Linked DNA regions of Homo sapiens: region 2 is linked to region 1. The links come from fine-mapping of genetic effects on gene expression. A gene starts in region 1. The other region holds a variant in brackets. All regions are shown on one strand. Distances are from middle to middle.

Region 1 (9,724 bases):
TCAGAAATAGACATATATATATGATCAATTAATTTTTGAAAGGGTACCAAAGTAATTTAATAAAAAAGGATACTCCCTGCAAGATAAGTTGATGGAATGAAAAACTGGACATATATTTGCAAAAAAAATCTTGATTTATATCTCACGCCATATACTAAAATTAACTAATGTGGTCTTCTGAAAACGGTTTCTCTAGACTGCAGTCTCCTTATCTGTAATATGGGGGAGGAAAGGACTAGTTTACATGATCCCCAAGATTCTTCTAGCTCTCACCTTCTGTGCCTGTGCCTTTTTCCTTTCCCTTCCACACAACTCAGTTATTCACTGGGTTAAACTCAAATGGCAGACGTGTACATGCAAGTCTCCATGAGGCTTATGGCAGCACAGGCTGTAGTTTTCATAGAAAAGCCACAGGAGGTATGACTTCTAATGTTGTCACTGAACTGTTTCTAACACTTCTTGTGCAAATCAACTGCCTTCACACATTCAGCTTTGCCTCCACTTTTTATCATTGCTCTTGCTGTGTTTTCCCTTCTCTGAAAAAGCAAATAGGCAGCCACTGTGGTCCTTGCTTAGGCTCCCAGGATACAGAAGCATCCCCAGGCCAGGAACCCCATGTCCTGGATCTGGGAAAACCTGGCCTTGACAGAGACGGTGGGGCAGCTTGGGAGCACTGCTTGGGGCAGAATCTGACAGAATCTCCTGATAGCTTCAGGAGAGGAGGTCTGATAGCTTCAGGAGAGGAGGAACCAGAGATCTTGGGGTGGGATATGTTAAAAGACAATGTGCACCCCAAGAAGCCTGGGCCAGTCCTACAGATGTGCCTGTTGGTAACTCTGATACCCCATGATGTCAAATGTCAATAGTAATTTCAGACAGAAGGAAAGCAAGACCCAGACAGCAGGACTTTGTATATTATATTTTTTTCATCAAAAGTAGAGCTTCCCAACTTTTTCATGTCGATGTCCACATGGTAACATTTGTCACAACATAGTGTGTAAACAGAAGAGGCTGCTCTCAACCTCAGATGCAACTGATCTCAGGCCTCGAGCCACCTTGGGGTTTTGGGGGGCTCTTTGTCTCCCCTCTGAAGGGTGAGGGGGAAAATATCTCAACAAACCTATAATTGATAGACAGCTCAAGGGCCGAGAATTTCCAATGTAATGACTCAAAAGGAAATCAGCCTGGTGAGGGTACACCTCAGCAAGCTCAGAAACATTATTCGTGACAGGAAGATATCAGCTTGTGGATCCCAAGATGCTCACCAGGAGACATTCAGTTGCAGGTGATAATGTCAGGGTAGAGGAGGGTCTCATTAGGCTTTCAGGAGGGTCCACCCCACTCCAGATGCAACAGGAGCTGTCCTCCATGGTGCCAGCCAGGAAATCTTCAGGGACCTTATCATCCCATCTGGACCTCATCTAACTCATCTAATAAACAACTAGAGGAGAGCGTCAAGGCATGCATTCAGTCCTGCTGCTCCCTCTTGGCCTTTTGAGCTAACTAAATGGGTGAAGGTTCTACTCTAAATGCAATGCTATGGAATTAGACAACTAGACATCAGCTACCCAGACAACTCCAGAGGTCATGACAACAAGCTCTTAAACCTGCTCTAGGCACTGTCCTGCCCTGACACCTACATACTCTCTGCTTCCTTTAAAATAACCGCTTCAAAGGGCCCCTTCTCCACCTCCAGTCAACCTTGATCACATGTCCAAGTTCTACTCCACACCTCAGGGCTTTCTCCTTGGGGTTGGTCCGTTTTGACCTCTTTTCTTCCCAAAATCCTGCTTAATACATTGTCTAAAACTGTGCTATCATGTATTTTTTACCATGACCCTCAGTTTTATACTGCTTCCCAGAGCTTACATACACTCATATTTTGTGTGACTAATTTTGATAGTTTCTATTCTACTCTATTTCATGTTTTGATGCTCTACAATGGGGTGTATGAAATACACTTGTCCAAAACATTCATTTGGGACCCTTACTCATTGTCTTTCATTTGCATAAGTCTTGTCTCTCTAATAAGATTTCAGATTCCTTACGAGGGTGGCTTTTTGTCTGCTTCCCATGGGTGCTGTCTGGACTTACCACCCATTAGGTCTGGTGTGGTGCAAAGGCTCAGGAGAATAGGGTAAATTTGCTTCAAAAGATGCAATATTTAGATACTTAGAGTGTACTTCATGGCATCGTTAATCCTTCCTCCATGTTGTATGTCAACTGTGGGCTCAAATAGTGGCCCCTTTTATTGACCTGGATGTTTCTGAATCCTCAACTCTACCTCCTGGATTCACCCCTAGATGATCTCCGCCCCCACCGTGAAGCCTCTTCAGCAGCTGTGGTCTCTGTAGAGCACCCTGATCCAGGAGGCTCCTTTCCTCACCTCCAATTAGAGGCGCCCCTGACCTGGACCCTCTCAGCCCTGAAAAGAGTAGCCATGACCTTGTCCAGACACAAAGGAAATAATAATGTTGATAATATAGAAATGCCTGCATTTTAATACTTTTTTTCAGCATCTTTTACCTGCTCTTTGATTTTCGTAAGAACACAATGTTCTAAAAAAAAGTTCCAAGAAAGAACTTTTTTTAGAGTGACTACCGACAAGGAAGAGAAATCACACTTCAGCATTTGGCTTCAGGGCCTCCCAACATTGACTTGGGGTTTCATTTCCACATTTCCCACTAGTCATGTTCATAGGAGACCTTCATGGAATAGGGTGAGATGATGGATGAAGAGACAGAGGCCAGATGGTGAAAGACAGCAAGCATGACTAAGAGTTAGGAGACCTTGTGGTGACCAACAGGCTCACTTTGACTGGGACTAAGGGGTTTCCCAGGACGTGGGCCTTGTAGTACTAAATCCAGTCAAATTCAGGGCAAGTTGGCGGTTGGTCACCTAGGACCTCAGCCCAGTGGCTCAGGAGAAAGTGGTAAATGCCATGCCTCCTCTTTCCCTCATTCTCCCTTCCTCCTTCATCAGAAGGCAATAATTGTCTGTCTCCCATTTCAAACAGAAGGTCCAAGGCATGAACCCAGGGGTCCTTGAATCACTCCAAGTTGGTAGGGAAGGTGGCTGCCCAAAATGTCTCCGAGATGGAGCTTTGGCATCTCCTCAGCTTAATAAAGCTGATTCTCAGGGCAGCCTACAGGTATCTACTCTGAGATGGCTACTGCACTCAGAACTCCAGAAACTTCATCACATAGCTAGAGCACATGAGTTGCAACTCAGCGTGCTCAGTTCTGTGCACCAGGGAGCATCACAGAGAGAAAGCAGGGATAGCAGAGGTGGCTGGGGATGGATAGAGACATGCTTTCAGTAATGATTCATCATATTTTGTACTATGTCAGGTTTGGTAGAGAACTGTCTCTGTCCAGGCTGAAAAGGGATTGAATTTGGTGTCAAACAGAAGGGTAGGGAAAATGGCCACTTCCTCGGTGTCCCAGGTTTCCTGGGGGTTTGTTTGTTTTGCAAATCTGAACAGAGGAATAGAGAGGGTGTGGAAAAAGGCACAAAGAGTCTAGTTTTGGAAATCCTTTCATATCTGGATATATACGAATTTCTACAACCCTACTTTCTGAAAGTAGCTACCTAAGATTATTCTTCTAGCACTAAATGTAACTACAAAAGGGGACATGAGGGAAGAGTTAGAGCATTTAAGTTGTATGTTTTACTGATTTACTCAGTAAGTATTTTTGAGCACTTTCTAGGGCTAAGTTCTAGCAAGATCCTGACCTAAAGACAGTCCCTGGCCTCTAAAAAGCCCACGATCTCACCCAGAAAACTGATAGAGACCAGTTAACACATTTCATCATTGACTCCCTGGGGTCTCTTTGAGCCATAAGAGGAGCCTGGGAACTGCTAGAGAAGAGATAAGACTTAGAGAACAGATCTCAAAGCAGAAAATCAGTCCTTAGCTGGGGTGCCAGAGCACCCAGTTCAGTGGATAAAAATAATGTTTGCAAATAGTTCAAACCAAAAGGAAAGAAGAGAAGGAGTTTGAAGATGTTGCCAGAATTAAGTGAATTTGCTACATTGATGGGAATGGTTAGCTTCGGTGCCCCTCACTGTTTATAAGATTTTGATGTGAACTCTGTTGGTCAAGTTTTTGAAAGATTCCAGCCAGGTGCTGGGGGAGTACCTGGTCCCTATCTAGCAAGGGTGAAATCCTGGTCAGATTACAGCCCACTTTCTGCCCTGCTCTGCTCAATTCACATAAATTATGAGTGCTGACTAGGTTGAAAGTCCTTGAAGAATTTAAAAATGTAAGGGCGAATAAAAATCAAAAATAAGGAGAAAACATTAATTCTCTTTTCTGGGGAAAAAACAAAGTGGAAAAGAATTACCCCTCCCTTCTTAGAGCATTTTCTTTAGAAACCTTGTAAGTGTGAAATCTTTCTCTACCCTTTGTAATGCAAATCTTTTTAAAAGCTGTTTGACAGCCCAGGGCTGTCTGTAGAGCATCTGGAAGCCATCCCTTTGAAATGCAAACATCAAGGAAGGTAGCGTCCCCACCTCCCAGTCTCTGTGTGAAAATAGGGGCCTAATTTAGGAGCCTAACTTAGGTAGGAGCCTGACATCTGCCAGCACCTTTCTGAGTTGCAAATCTTCCTCTTGCCATAGAGGATGTGAGAAGTTTACTTTTCCTCTGGAAAGACAATTAGCCAACACAGATGATTACTGAGTGAATTTAGGATGAACTATGCATGTCAAAGGGTGCTGTCAAGTCCTCTTACTTGAGGATTAGTTATGGTTTAACTTGAGAACACGTGTGTAATAGGTGGCACCTGCCTGGCTGTATAACCAGGTGGCATCCCTCTCCGTCTTTGCAATCTCTTCCTGGATTGTCTGGGATCCAGATCACATTCTGGTTCAATGGACATTCAATAATAAAATTGTTTTCTTTCTCTTCTGCCTCTGTGGAGAGGTTTTCTGGGCTAGCAGGAGATTGTTTAAAATTGTTTTCCCATCAAGTCTTAGACAATTGTTACCATATGACTGTAAGCCCCACTTCAAATGTCAACAGAAAAGGATATGGGGATTCTCTGGGCCATGACGGCCCTCCGCCTAAGTCCCACTGTGTTCTCCATCGCATAATTGCCTTATGTCCACTGCCCTAACCTTAAATGGCAATCAGGTTTATGTCCACTGCCCTAACCTTAAATGGCAATCAGGTTTATGTCCACTGCTCTAGCCTTAAATGGCAATCAATTCAAAAATAGAGGTTCTATCACCCTGCTTTCAACCCTTACCAGATAAACTGACACGTAGACTCCACAATGTCCCCACAGGGTGGGCTCCATCACGTGCCAGACAGCTTACCAGGGTCAGTCACGAGCCCAGAGTCAAACCCTGCAAGGGCTTGTTCTGGTCCTCTTTGGACCAGAGTGCCTTTCTGATCCTGGTTAGCAGAAACTTTCCAGAAGCAGAGCCTGTGAGAAGGGGCCCAAGAGTGCTGGGAGGAGAAGGTGCCCCGGTGATGGGTGCTGAGGGCAGCAGCTGCTGCCCAGAACTTTCCAGTCACTAGGGACCTTTTCTGAACTTGGAAGTGGGAGAGTCTGTAATTCCCTTCATATCTCCTTCTTCCAAATACTGCTTGCTTGAAACAGTCAAAAAAAAAAAAAAAAGGAAATGGGATGGGGCACACTGTCCCAGGGCAGGCTCATGACAGGAAGTGACCCGTTAAGGAAGCAGCACATCGCTGCATTCGGCTGGTTTTCAGGGTCTTGTTCCCAATCAGTTTCCAGCCAACACCAGGGTGTCCTAGTCCGCAGAGGTGTGGGGGACACACTCCATAATCTCTACTTTTCTTTTTGTGCAGCTGAGTCATGGAGCTTTCAGCCCCAGCACATGGCTCCTCCTTAACTGCGTCTGCTCAACCTCCCTCAGCCCTGTGAACAGCATCCCCGCACACAGACGCAGAGCAGGACTCTCTCTGCTGCCACTTCACCTTCCTGAGAGAGGACCAGCGGCCAGAGCCTCAGTGACTGCCACCCTGGAGGACAGGGCACAACAACCGTTTCTGGTAAGGAGAACTGGGTTTATGCTCACAGAGACTTTGGGAATTGAAAGGATCACAGTTTGGTCACAGCTGTTCATTTCTGACATGACCTTGCACAGATCCCCTCACTTCTGGGTTCGCTGGTCAGTAAAACGGGGCAATGGTGATGAGTGTTGCGGGCATCAGCAGGTGCACAGCTGGTGGAGCACAGCCTGAAGAATCTGTGCCTGCACTCACAGCCCAGTCCCAGGACAGCGGGCTTTGCTGCCCCATTGCCCATTACTTAGCCAAGTCGATCTCCATGAAACTCTCAGGGAGTAAGGCTGAACTGATCCTCTCATCAGTGGGACAGATGGGAGAACTGAAGCTCCCAGAGGGTGATAGGCTTTCCCCCATCTCCCCTAGCATGCCGGGGCATTCTTCTCAATTTTACCCTCCTAATTTCTCCTGTCCCAGACCAGCCAGACACGTACCATGTCTCAGACAAGCCTGGGAGCTGAGGATGGATTCTTAGGGCTCCCCAGGGCAAATGTGGGATATTTTCCCACCCCAGGAGCCTCATGTTCCAAACAAGACCCCTGAGTGGACCTTGTCTTGTGACTTTCAACTTCTGAAAACTACCCCATGCTCCCCCAGATGCCCCACATTTTTCCTATGACACCCTGCCGGACGCACACCAAACCGCAAAACACATGATTCCAATACCTGGAAATACATGGGCTGGGGCAGATGGGTGAAGGAGATACTTATGAACAAGGAAGACAAGAAGTGGTTTGATCTTTTCTAAAATAGTATGGAAGAGGCTGCTTTCTTGTAATTTGCTAAAATAAGCTCTTCTCATGGTAAAATCAGGTTCATGCAATTTTCAAATCGGAATGTGCATTTTGTTCATTTGCTTCACCCTTTTCCCTGAGCCAGACCCTCCCACCAGCTTGCCAGAGGCTGCTACTGTCTTGCTTGCACACTGCCTTCCAATCTCTCATGAACTTTGGTCTCTTTTGTGGGACGATTAGTAAAATTTTTCCTTTGGAGAAGACGCCTGTCTTCATTCTCAATTCCTCCACTTTTGTCTGCCCTGTAGACCAACACGTATCACATTCCTTCAAGCCTACGGTGTGTCCACCACGCTCTATTCAGTTCTTTTATAATCTTCTCCATGACTCATTTTAGCATTGCCATCAGTATCCTTTCTGACTCACCTGTGAACACTTTGTTATTTGTGAATATCTGCCAAAAAATGTATTCCTCAATGCAGCCTGATCCACTCAGAAAGCTTGGATTGGGAGAGCTATTGTTGCTGGTCATTGGCTAACATAACATAGTTTGACTGGCTTTTGTGACAGGCAATTGGCTGTTTTAAAAGAAAAGACCTCAATTCAGAGAAACTCCTGCCACCAGCAATTTTATTTTTGAATAACCTTTTATAAGAAATGCACTCAAGATTTTGCAATAAAATTCTGTGTGTTGGTTTTAGGGTAGGCTTCTAGCTGTCCAATTAATTTGTCTCCTGACCAGGGAGTGGCAGCATTGTACACATGTTCCAAGAGGTTTGTTGACTTTTTTGGAAAAGTCTCTTTTTCCACCTGTGGAATCAAGGACAATACACAGCAAAAGGAGCCATTTCCTGATGCTAGCTCCATTGTAAATATGTGACCTTTGGCAGGTCATTTAATGCTCAGTTTCCTTGCATTTTAATAGAAATTTTAAGATCAGTTTTGATCACATCACAGGGAATTTGAGAGAGCAATTAAAATAAGAAGGATGAAATAACTTTGAAAATTATAAATGTATTCACAGAGGCTTATTACAATTATGATGTTCATAATCAATATCATTACCACTGTCATCTTGACCCTTACCACATCATTATGTTGATTCCAAACCTCAGAAAACGTCATCTAAAGTAGAGAGGATGTCAGGGAACTGGTGCTATTTTAGCAAAAGCCAGAAGCATAATTTACCAGAGACGAGAACAGGGTGTGGGAGAGAGGAAAATGTTCTTCTCTGGGCTTAAGAAAAAGAAAGAAAGGAGAGAGGGGAGGGTAAAGAGGAAAGGAGGAAGAAAAGAAAGAAGGGAAAGGGAGGGAGGCAGGAAGCTGTCTTAATACATTCTGATAATATAAAAATAGATTTCTTGACCTAAAGAAGGCCAAGAAAATCCACTGAATGAATAGAAAAATGTGGAAAAGATAGAAATCACAGAAGTTATTAAAAATTGAAGTTTATAAATTACCAAAATAGCAAATAAACCATGAAAACTGTTTTTAATTTAATGATAATCAGTAAAATGTAAGTTTAAGCCAATTAAGACATCCTTATTTATGCCCATAAGGATGACAGGAAATTAAAAGTGTAATATTACTAAGTGCCTGTGAAGATTTGGGGACTTCTTATAAATGGGTGGTGCAAATAGGAGTTAACTCAACTCCCTGGGAGTCATATTTGGCAATAACCAGTCACGTGGAAAATGTACATCCCCAATACTGTTGCACAATGCTGGAAACCCGGAGCAGGCAATGAGTTGTTCTTGAATTCGGCCTGAAGTTGATTCTTTCTCTTCAATCACCTCACTACCTCCTCTCCACCAACCGTCAGGGTGGGAAAGCGGTCATACCGGTCCCCCTATACCATTTCCTCTCACGTCAGTTCTTCGTGTCCCTGATCCCCACTTCCATCCTCCCACTGGACAGTACCTTGTAATTTCCTCTCCGCCGCTGGAATGTCCATTTGACACAAAGACTTTCTGGGACTGGAAGTTTCCACTACTTCAAATAAACCAATCTTATTTACAGCAAGGCAATTTTTTTTTCTCTATTCTGGTAAGTTTGTTACTTTAATTTCAATTTTTTTAATGCCTACTCTTTGTTCCATAGAAGAATGCTTTCTCCATTTCATGCCTTTCTGGTTGGGGGAGATAATCAACTGATTTGCTTCAAAATATTTCCTGATTTTCTGTAAGTTGAGGGGAGGGAAGTAATCGTGCACTATTTTAGCATAACCTAACATCTAACATCACCTGCTTTGTTTAAAGTTATTTACAGATGTTTCAAAGTAAAGTATGAGTTAGAAAATTAGGGATGGAAATGGCTCATTTGAGAATGATTATTCTTAGATGTCTGAATTGAGGTGCCCTCAGGCTCTACCAGCTCCCAAACGTACATCTGCTTTTTATCCTTTTCCTGTTTTTATTCCAGGAGAGAATGGGAGGATTCCAGAGGGGCAAATATGGAACTATGGCTGAAGGTAAGAAAGTCTTGAAGTTCTCAAGAGCCCCAGACACTTGGGAGAATCACAATTCTCTCCCCATCTACCCCCATCTAAAACACAGTGGCAGAAACCCATTCATTTTAAATGAAGAAGATAAAGGCAACTATCATCACGTGTGTGTTATCAAACCATCACACACACACACAGACACACACACACACCATAGTGTGATGCTCTCCCTGCATCAGGTATGTGGGAAATGTGGAAAGGAAACCAAGTCATAGGTTGAAGGGTCTGGAAGCAAATGGTGAATATGTTTTCTCTTTCTTTGTCTGCTGACAGCTCAAAAAGAAAAGGTCCCCATAGGGATTTAGTCATTGTGCTTGCTACAAAACACCACAGAATAACTTAAGAAAACGAAGAACCAACCCAGAGTGGGAGAAATAAAATAATAGATTTTTAAGAGCCTAAAATGCACTTCGAATTCATTTGGGCTCTAGAAATCCACAGGTTCTC
Region 2 (9,724 bases), 150 kb before region 1:
TATTTCTTGCCTTTTGCTAGCTTTTGAATGTGTTTGCTCTTGCTTCTCTAGTTCTTTTAATTGTGATGTTAGGGTGTCAATTTTAGATCTTTCCTCCTTTCTCTTGTGGGCATTTAGTGCTATAAATGTCCCCCTACACACTGCTTTGAATGTGTCCCAGAGATTCTGGTATGTTGTGTCTTTGTTCTCATTGGTTTCAAAGAACATCTTTATTTCTGCCTTCATTTTGTTATGTACCCAGTGGTCATTCAGGAGCAGGTTGTTCAGTTTCCATGTATTTGAGCAGTTTTGAGTGAGTTTCTTAATCCTGAGTTCTAGTTTGATTGTACTGTGGTCTGAGAGACAGTTTGTTATAATTTCTGTTCTTTTACATTTGCTGAGGAGAGCTTTACTTCCAACTATGTGGTCAATTTTGGAATAGGTGTGGTGTGGTGCTGAAAAGAATGTATAGTCTGTTGATTTGGGGTGGAGAGTTCTGTAGATGTCTATTATGTCCACTTAGTGCAGAGTTGAGTTCAATTCCTGGATATCCTTGTTAACTTTCTGTCTCGTTGATCTGTCTAATGTTGACAGTGGGGTGTTAAAGTCTCCCATTATTATTGTGTGGGAGTCTAAGTCTCTTTGTCGGTCACTAAGGACTTGCTTTATGAATCTGGGTGCTCCTGTATTGGGTGCATATATATTTAGGATAATTAGCTCTTCTTGTTGAATTGATCCCTTTACCATTATGTAATGACCTTCTTTGTCTCTTTTGATCTTTGTTGGTTTAAAGTCTGTTTTATCAGAGACTAGGATTGCAAACCCTGCCTTTTTTTGTTTTCCATTTGCTTGGTAGATCTTCCTCCATCCCTTTATTTGGAGCCTATGTGTGTCTCTGCACGTGAGATGGGTTTCCTGAATACAGCACACTGATGGGTCTTGACCCTATATCCAATTTGCCAGTCTGTGTCCTTTAATTGGAGCATTTAGCCCATTTACATTTAAGGTTAATATTGTTATGTGTGAATTTGGTCCCGTCATTATGATGTTAGCTGGTTATTTTGCTCATTAGTTGATGCAGTTTCTTCCTAGCCTTGATGGTCTTTACATTTTGGCATGTTTTTGCAGTGGCTTGTACTGGTTGTTCCTTTCCGTGTTTAGTGCTTCCTTCAGGAGCTCTTTTAGGGCAGGCCTGGTGGTGACAACATCTCTCAGCATTTGCTTGTCTGTAAAGGATTTTATTTCTCCTTCACTTATGAAGCTTAGTTTGGCTGGATATGAACTTCTGGGTTGAAAATTCTTTTCTTTAAGAATGTTGAATATTGGCCCCCACTCTCTTCTGGCTTGTAGAATTTCTGCCGAGAGATCAACTGTTAGTCTGATGGGCTTCCCTTTGAGGGTAACCCGACGTTTCTTTCTGGCTGCCCTTAACATTTTTTCCTTCCTTTCAACTTTGTTGAATCTGACAATTATGTGTCTTGGAGTTGCTCTTCTTGAGGAGTATCTTTGTGGCATTCTCTGTATTTCCTGAATCTGAATGTTGGCCTGCCTTGCTAGATTGGGGAAGTTCTCCTGGATAATATCCTGCAGAGTGTTTTCCAACTTGGTTCCCTTCTCCCCGTCACTTTCAGGTATACCAATCAGACGTAGATTTGGTCTTTTCACACAGTCCCATATTTCTTGGAGGCTTTGTTCATTTCTTTTTATTCTTTTTTCTCTAAACATCCCTTCCTGCTTCATTTCATTCATTTTGTCTTCCATCACTGATACCCTTTCTTCCAGTTGATTGCATCAGCTCCTGAGGCTTCTGCATTCTTCACTTAGTTCTGGAGCCTTGGCTTTCAGCTCCATCAGGTCCTTTAAGGACTTCTCTGCACTGGTTATTCTAGTTATCCATTCATCTAATTTTTTTTCAAAGTTTTTAACTTCTTTGCCATTGGTTTGAATTTCCTCCTGTAGCTCAGAGTAGTTCGATCATCTGAAGCCTTCTTCTCTCAACTCGTCAAAGTCATTCTCTGTCCAGCTTTGTTCCATTGCTGGTGAGGGCTGCATTCCTTTGGAGGAGGAGAGGTGCTCTGCTTTTTAGAGTTTCCAGTTTTTCTGCTCTGTTTTTTCCTCATCTTTGTGGTTTTATCTACTTTTGGTCTTTGATGATGGTGACGTACAGATGGGTTTTTGGTGTGGATGTCCTTTCTGTTTGTTAGTTTTCCTTCTAACAGACAGGACCCTCAGCTGCAGGTCTGTTGGAGTTTGCTAGGTCCACTCCAGACCCTGTTTGCCTGGGTATCAGCAGCGGTGGCTGCAGAACAGTGGATATTGGTGAACCGCAAATGCTGCTGCCTGATCGTTCCTCTGGAAGTTTTGTCTCAGAGGAGTACCCAGCCGTGTGAGGTGTCAGACTGCGCCTACTGTTGGGTGCCTCCCAGTTAGGCTGCTCGGGGGTCATGGACCCACTTGAGGAGGCAGTCTGCCCATTCTCAGATCTCAAGCTGCGTGCTGGGAGAACCACTACTCTCTTCAAAGCTGTCAGACAGGGACATTTAAGTCTGCAGAGGTTACTGCTGTCTTTTTATTTGTCTGTGCCCTGCCCCCAGAGGTGGAGCCTACAGAGGCAGGCAGGCCTCCTAGAGCTGTGGTGGGCTCCACCCAGTTTGAGCTTCCTGGCTGTTTTGTTTACCTACTGAAGCCTTGGCAATGGCAGGCACCCCTCCCCCAGCCTTGCTGCCACCTTGCAGTTTGATCTCAGACAGCTGTGCTAGCAATCAGAAAGACTCCGTGGGCATAGGACCCTCCAAGCCAGGTGCAGGGTATAATCTCCTGATGTGCCGTTTTTTAAGCCCGTTGGAAAAGCACAGTATTAAGGTTGAAGTGACCCGGTTTTCCAGGTGCTGTCTGTCACCCCTTTCTTTGACTAGGAAAGGGAACTCCCTGACCCCTTGCACTTCCTGAGTGAGGCAATGCCTTGCCCTACTTTGGCTCACACACAGTGCGCTGCACCCACTGTCCTGCACCCACTGTCTGGCACTCCCTAGTGAGATGAACCTGGTACCTCAGATGGAAATGCAGAAATCACCCATTTTCTGTGTCGCTCACGCTGGGAGCTGTAGACCCAAGCTGTTCCTATTTGGCCATCTTGGCTCCACCCCAGGATATACATATCTTCCTTATTTCCCCAAAGCACAAATAAGTTTAGACTGTACATTTAACAAAAGTTAGCAAAGGCTTAAATATAAGAGAAGCACTACACAATGAAATGTGCGATTCCTTTAGAAATAATCACTCAGAGTAAGACAGCTTCTGCTCTCACCTATTGTATTACTACTGTCTGTGAGCAAATATTTGAACAAAAAGCCACACATACCTCCCAAGAGGAAGTACATTCAGGTTTAATAGGAAAAAATCTCTAACTGCAGTGGTTGTTATCAGTGTAACACACACTCAATTATTCTTCCCCTTGCATTCAGGTTAATGCTGCAGATGAGGGAAAGAAAAAGGTTCTGACTTAAGAAGCAGCAAGCAGATGAGAAGCCCAAGTGAAAAACTCTAAGAAGAGTGTTGCCTGTTTGCCTCCCAGGAGAGAAGGCAGACAGAAGGTCCTTGGCAAATACTATGCATTGTGATTAATACAAGAGGAGAGGGAGACATGTTTCCTTCTCTCAAGAGTTTTGAGGCTTCATACCTACTCACGCACTCATTACCACTCATTGATTCCTTGTATCTCATGGTTGGTTCTAGAGCAGACACTGAGAATCTAGAGATGAGTAAAAGAAGTCCCTTTTGAGATTGGGTTTGTTTGTCTCAGCATAATGCTTTCGAGAGTCATCTGAGTTGCCTGTTCTTTTTTTTCTGAGTAGTATTTTACCATATGGATGTTCCACAGTTTGCCTTTCTTTACTTATTCTTGTGCACCTAATTGATTTATCTTGTTTGATTGCATTGGCCAATACCTCCATTATAATGTTGAGCAGTAGTGGAGATGACAAGCATGCTTGCCTTATTCTTGGCAATGCCTCCAATGTTTCCCAGTTAAACAAGTAAGGTTCTGGGTTACAGTAGTATCACTGCTCTGCTTTTCCTCTTCTTAAGATGGAAAGCTCAGATATTTGATTTTAGAACTCTCTTCTTTACTAGCGTAAGTCTGTAAAGCTATAAAATTTCTCTCTGTTTATGTTTGTCCACATTTTTATTTGGAGAGGTGGTAAAAGAAAATATTATTTCAATTATGAAAGCTTTTGTGGGAAAATTGGGGAAAAGACTGGATATTTAAATGTTTGCCAACATGAAA[G/C]GTCTTCCACTGAGGCACCCATTTTGAATGAAACACTTTGAGTCCACTATCAACTCAGCTGGTAGCTACTTGCCTTGTCCCCAGCCACTGAGAGGACAAGGCAAAAGAGAACAGCAAGGAATTCCCCTGCATGGGTCCTTTCTGGCTGCCTCACTGTCAGGGCTCTGAAGAGATGGATTGTGAGCACAGCTTCAACAACAAAACCACATTGTGAAAGGTTAAGAGTTTTTAGTACTTATATACCCTGGGGAATGTTTTGTTTTAAAATATTTCCAAATTTATGAGAGGCGTTGTAAATTCAGGACAAAATATGAATTCATGGTATAGATGTTTTAAAATCATTTACACTTGTCAAGTAAGAATTCTAGCTAGATATTTGACACAAATCCCTTGTAAGCAGTCTCATTTTCATGTTTCATGACCCAGGATTACTGGACCATGCTCTGTTCCATTTTTGGAACCCAACATGATTTTGCCCTGATTGCCCCCCAAAAGGATTTCATCTTCCTCCACTTATACAGCCACTTATACAGAATATTTGATCAGGAAAATTGAAGCATATGTAGGTATAGGTAGGATATATTTTCAAATCCAGGAAATTAGAGGCTGGCCCACCCCTTGGAGGGCTGGGAATGCAGAGGTCTTGGAAGCTTGCTGATGCACAGAGCTGGGTGGTTTTGAGGCGCTCATTTGCTGTGACATGCAGGTAGGTCTGCTCATTGTCTCTCTGCTGTTGCTGCCAGAGAATGGTCCTTCTTCCTTGTCCACCATCCAAATCTCATGTGAATGTCTCATCTTGATTTATTCTCACTTGGACCATACAGTGTAAGAGGTGATGAGAAATATCATTCTAGGCTCCTCCGTGATTCAGAAACAACAGATGATGTTGGAGGTCGAAAGACTGAGGGTCGTGATCAATTCCGTATACCACTGGGGCTATATGAGTAGGCAGCAAACTGTTTCTCATAAATGCAGAATTTTGGCAGACTGACAAACTGCATCTTCCACCCAGAAGGGATATTGAGGGCAGTTACACCCCAAGCACGATGTTTCTTGTGATTAGGTACATCTGAAGCTTGTTAGTAATCATATGAACCTGTGATCAATTAAGAAGCGGACCAGTAGTTACCTCCTGCTCTCTGGCCATTCTACCCAATAAATACGAAGTGCAGTAGAAGCTCAGGGGCTGCTTTTGCTCACTAGAAGGAGGAGTGCTATTCTTCTTCCCCAGTTCCCCTTCCTATAAAAGTTTCTTTTGTCTTAAGCTTTCATTTCTACGTTTGTCCCTTCATTCCGTCTTGTGATGATGGTTTCAAGTAGTAACAGTAGTAACTGTCATAGTGACAGTCTCAAGTAATAACCATGGCAGTCAGCCAAAAGTGGCACCTGAACAGGGACAAACAGGGACTATCAGAGACAAAAAGAGACCTGAAGGGACCTGAAGAGGCCTGCAGGGACAAATAGAGATAAGGAGGGATAAATGGAGATAAATAGACAAATAGGGACAAATAGAGATAGGTAGGGAAAGACAGGGACTTGCAAGAACTTGCAGGAACTAACAGGGGCTATAGGGACTGAGAGGGACAGATAGGGATAGATAAAGACTAGCAAAACTTGCTGGGACAGATAGGGAGAGTTGGGTCCTAAAGGGACTTGAATGAGGAAGGTCTGCTGGAACAGAAAAAACCAAAGCCCAGAAAAAATTAAAACCAACCAGACGAATGAGAAACCCTGTTACAAGTCTGCCTGCAGCAACATAAGGTCAGGGCCCTAGAGGTACAAAGAATGGGAAGTTTTTGAATCAGGGTAACATGGGGAAGAATTTGGCTATTTCTTCGCTCTTTTGTTTGGAGTTCGGTACGTACTATCTTTTTGTTATTTCAGGGTTTTAGGGAATTTTTTGCCCCACCTACAGCACCTATCAAAAGTAGTGAACAGGAGAGGGAGAATGGAAATTGGCTTGTACCATCTTCCTTTGTGGCTACAGAAAGGCTAACTTTAGCTTTGGCTTTCTGGGATTGTAAACCTGCATTGGCACCTGTGAGATGTGCAGAGAACTTGGGAGGTTTTCTCGGAGCTTGTCGGGATGTGGGAACTGAGCTTCATTGCTCTGCAGTATTGACTCAGACAATGGCTAATTTGGTAGCTGACAGATCTAAAAGAAGCCAAGGGTCAAGCCCTAATGTGGGAAAGTGTTATAAGTGTAGAAAAATTGGACATTTCAAAAAAGAACACTGCCAGACCTCTGGGCAAAAGGGATCTTGTAACACAGTTCCCCTCTTAACAGAAAAAATGCCAGGACTTGGCCCTCATTGCAATAAAGGGAATCATTGAGTTAATCAATGCCACTCAAAGTTTCATCAAAATGGCAGCCCCCTCTTGGGAAGTGAGAAGGGGGCCTGGACCCTGGCACCTCAAAAAATGAGGGCATTCCCTGTCCAGAGAACAGCTTCATTTCAGGGATTGGTTTCCAGAGGCATATTGATTCCCTCTCCCCAGGAACACCTGGAAGCGCAGGATTAGATGGCCCAGTTAGAGAGCAGGTTACGTTAATTGGAAGAAACAAACTCACTAAGATTCCCATTGGCATTTGTGGACCTTTGCCAACAGGATACATGGGATTAATTTTGGGCAAAAGCTGTCTTAACTTACAGGCCCAGGAGTTGGTAATTGGGATTGTGAAGGAGAAATTCAAGCAGTGGTAACGTCACAAGATCTTTGGGTTTTTGAACCAGGAGAATATATTGCTCAACTGTTGCTTATTCCCTATAAATTGTACCCCTCTCTACATAAGAAGAAGTGAGGAGGTCAGGGATTTGGAAGTGCAACTGGGAGAGAGACTTACCTATCACAACCCGTGGCATCTAATAGACCCACCTATACAGTGCAAATCAAAGGAAAGAAGTTTTATGGGCTTATGGATATAGGAGCTGATGTGTCAGTGTGTCAGTAATATCTAAAAACAATTGGCCCCTATCTCGGTCCCTAAAACTATCTTCTACATCCCTAGTGGGAGTAGGAACAGCTCAAAGTGTTCAACAGAGTGCTGAGATTCTGTCATGTCTCAGACTGGATGGGCGGTTCGTGTTTTGTGTCTCAAGGTTTAAAGGAGTCTTTTGCCCTGCACGTTGAACCCACCGGGGGTGGAGGGCAGGAGAGGGAGGATGAGAATTGGCCTGTACTGCCCTTTTCAGTAGTAGAGACACCTGTACTATCTTCTGAAGCAGAAACAGAGACCCTAATAGTTAGGCAGGAATATCATCACCCCTATTCAGCCTGAAGAAGTTACAGAAGACAGATCTTCATCCCTCTGCAACCCTTAGGATTAAGGGTCCTCTTGTAAAGGGGGAGATATGTCAGAGGCATTCAAACCAGGGCCGTTTCACTTGTTTCTGGGACTTCAACAAGCTGTTCACTCTCATGCTGCTCCTTTTCATGTTTCTAATGTTCACCCTCACACACTGCTCCCTGGGCTGCTCTCTTTGGGTGGTGATGGAATGAGAGACTGGAGAAGGATAAGCCTCGATTTGCTCTCTGTGTGCCTTCTGTTAATCAGAAAGAGCCAGCCTCTCATTATCAATGGAAAGTTTTACCCTGCGGTAATTAACCAAAGAGACAGAAGCTGAGTTACAGGTTGCAGAGCAGACGCTTCAGCAACGGCATGCCTCCCGGCTACAGCCACAAAAACTTTTTGCTTCTGCTTTGCTAGATTTACTAACGTGGGGGCGAGGGTATGCTTGTGTTTTCACAGCAAATGAACAAACCATGTGGGTGCCCTCAAGGTGTGTACAACCATGGAACAGGAGATTGGAGGGAACCATGGATCCCAGCCACAGGCCTGGTTCCCCCAGTGTGAGCCATGAGCCAGTTGAATCTGAATGTGAAGACGAACGAACCACCAACCAGCAATTGAAGGCTGCACATTTTGCAATTGCCTTATTCAATTAATTCAAAAACAAAAAGGGAGAAATGTTGGAGGACAAAAGATTGAGGGTCGTGGTCAATTCAGCATACCACTGGAGGCTATATGAGTAGGCAGCAAACTGTTTCTCAAATGCAGAATGTTGGCAGACCGACAAACTGTGTCTTCCACCCAGAAGGGATACTGAGGGCAGTGACGGCCAAGTGCAATGTTTGTTGTGATTAGGTACATCTGAAGCCTGTTAGTAATAATGTGAACCTGTGTTCAATTAAGCAGCTGACCAATCATTACCTTCTGCTCCCTGGTCATTCTACCCAATAAATACGAAGCGTGGTAGAAGCTCAGGGGCGGCCTTTGCTCACTAGAAGCAGGGAGCCCTTTTCTTCTTCCCCAGTTCCCTTTCCTTTAAAATGGTTTCTTTTGTCTTAAGTTTTCATTTCTATGTTCGTCCCTTCATTCAGTCTTGTAATGACGGTCTCAAGTAGTAACAGTAGTAACTGTCATAGTGACAGTCTCAAGTAATAACCATGGCAGTCAGCCACAAGATGATTTGGCACTGCTGAAGCATTCATAGAGCAGCATTCATCATCTATCTGACCTTTTTGTGGGAAATGTTTCCTAGCCCATTCAAGACACTTATGCTCATTGATGCTGGGTATACCCAGGACAAAGTAGTTTTGATCTTGTATTTTGACTACTTGCTATCTGTCTCCTACAGTTATGGCTGATGAAGAACACTTCCTTATTCACCATTGGATTCCAATATCCTGGAGTGTGTGAAGCACTCGTTAAATATTTTTCACCCATTTGGCAGTGGTACATCCCCCTTGCCCTTGGAGAATGGTAAAACTTGGCTCAAGCTGCATTTCCACAGCACACAGAATCCAAACTCCCTCCTGCAGGGAGCTTTCTGCACTCACTTCCTCATCCTTCCCCTACTTCCTCCTGCGTGTGCCACTGTCCTCTGTCTTACCCCATTTCATGCACTTGCAGTTCATTCACTTGAAGTTCAGTTTTCTGCCTAGTTTCCACCATCATAATAGTGATCAGCATTATGTAAGCTTCAGCAGCTTTCCTAGAGATTTTGAGTTACAGGGGAAGGTACCAAAGACAGCACTGGGCATTTCTATACCAAGCTCACTCTCCTCCCTCTGGCTTGGAAAGAGAAACTGTTTATCCCTCTACACCCAGGAGGAAACAACTCTGGAGTTGCTTAATAAATTGTCATCTTCTCAGGAATGCAGATGACTGATCAATTCCAGGATGTTAGAGAGCCTGACACCCACTGGAGCACTTCCTACTATTGTTTTAACTTTCCAAAAACAAGAAACAGACTGTCCTTTCCCCTTTGCCCTGTGGTGACCAGACATGACCTTCATTTTTGCTTTCTCTTTCCACTCTACAGTCACCAATGAAGGTCTCCTTCTGGCAGCTCTGCCTGGGTCAGATTCTGTTGGTTTTCTCTCCTGGGGCTGTCACTCTGTGGTTGTCAGGTGGCCCAGGATGGGGAATAACTCCCTTCTGTTCCAGTAGGAGGA

What was found. PIP is the estimated chance that this variant, and not a neighbour inherited with it, causes the effect.
Region 2: its variant is fine-mapped to the expression of GIMAP5 in whole blood (TOPMed, PIP above 0.99).

The regions. Positions count from the first base shown.
Region 1 is chr7:150,731,684-150,741,407 of GRCh38, forward strand. GIMAP5 (GTPase, IMAP family member 5) reads left to right here and starts at 5,735. Exons shown (of 3, transcript NM_018384.5): 1 at 5,735-6,025; 2 at 9,196-9,244. The coding sequence starts at 9,202. GIMAP1-GIMAP5 (GIMAP1-GIMAP5 readthrough) reads left to right here. Exons shown (of 5, transcript NM_001303630.2): 3 at 5,822-6,025; 4 at 9,196-9,244. RefSeq lists enhancers at 1,697-1,836, 3,870-4,856, 5,732-5,811.
Region 2 is chr7:150,577,497-150,587,220 of GRCh38, forward strand. No RefSeq gene overlaps it. Among named protein-coding and RNA genes, the nearest start is that of GIMAP4, 15 kb to the left of the region's middle. RefSeq lists an enhancer at 9,030-9,209. The variant G/C (reference allele first, on the strand shown) is at 4,265.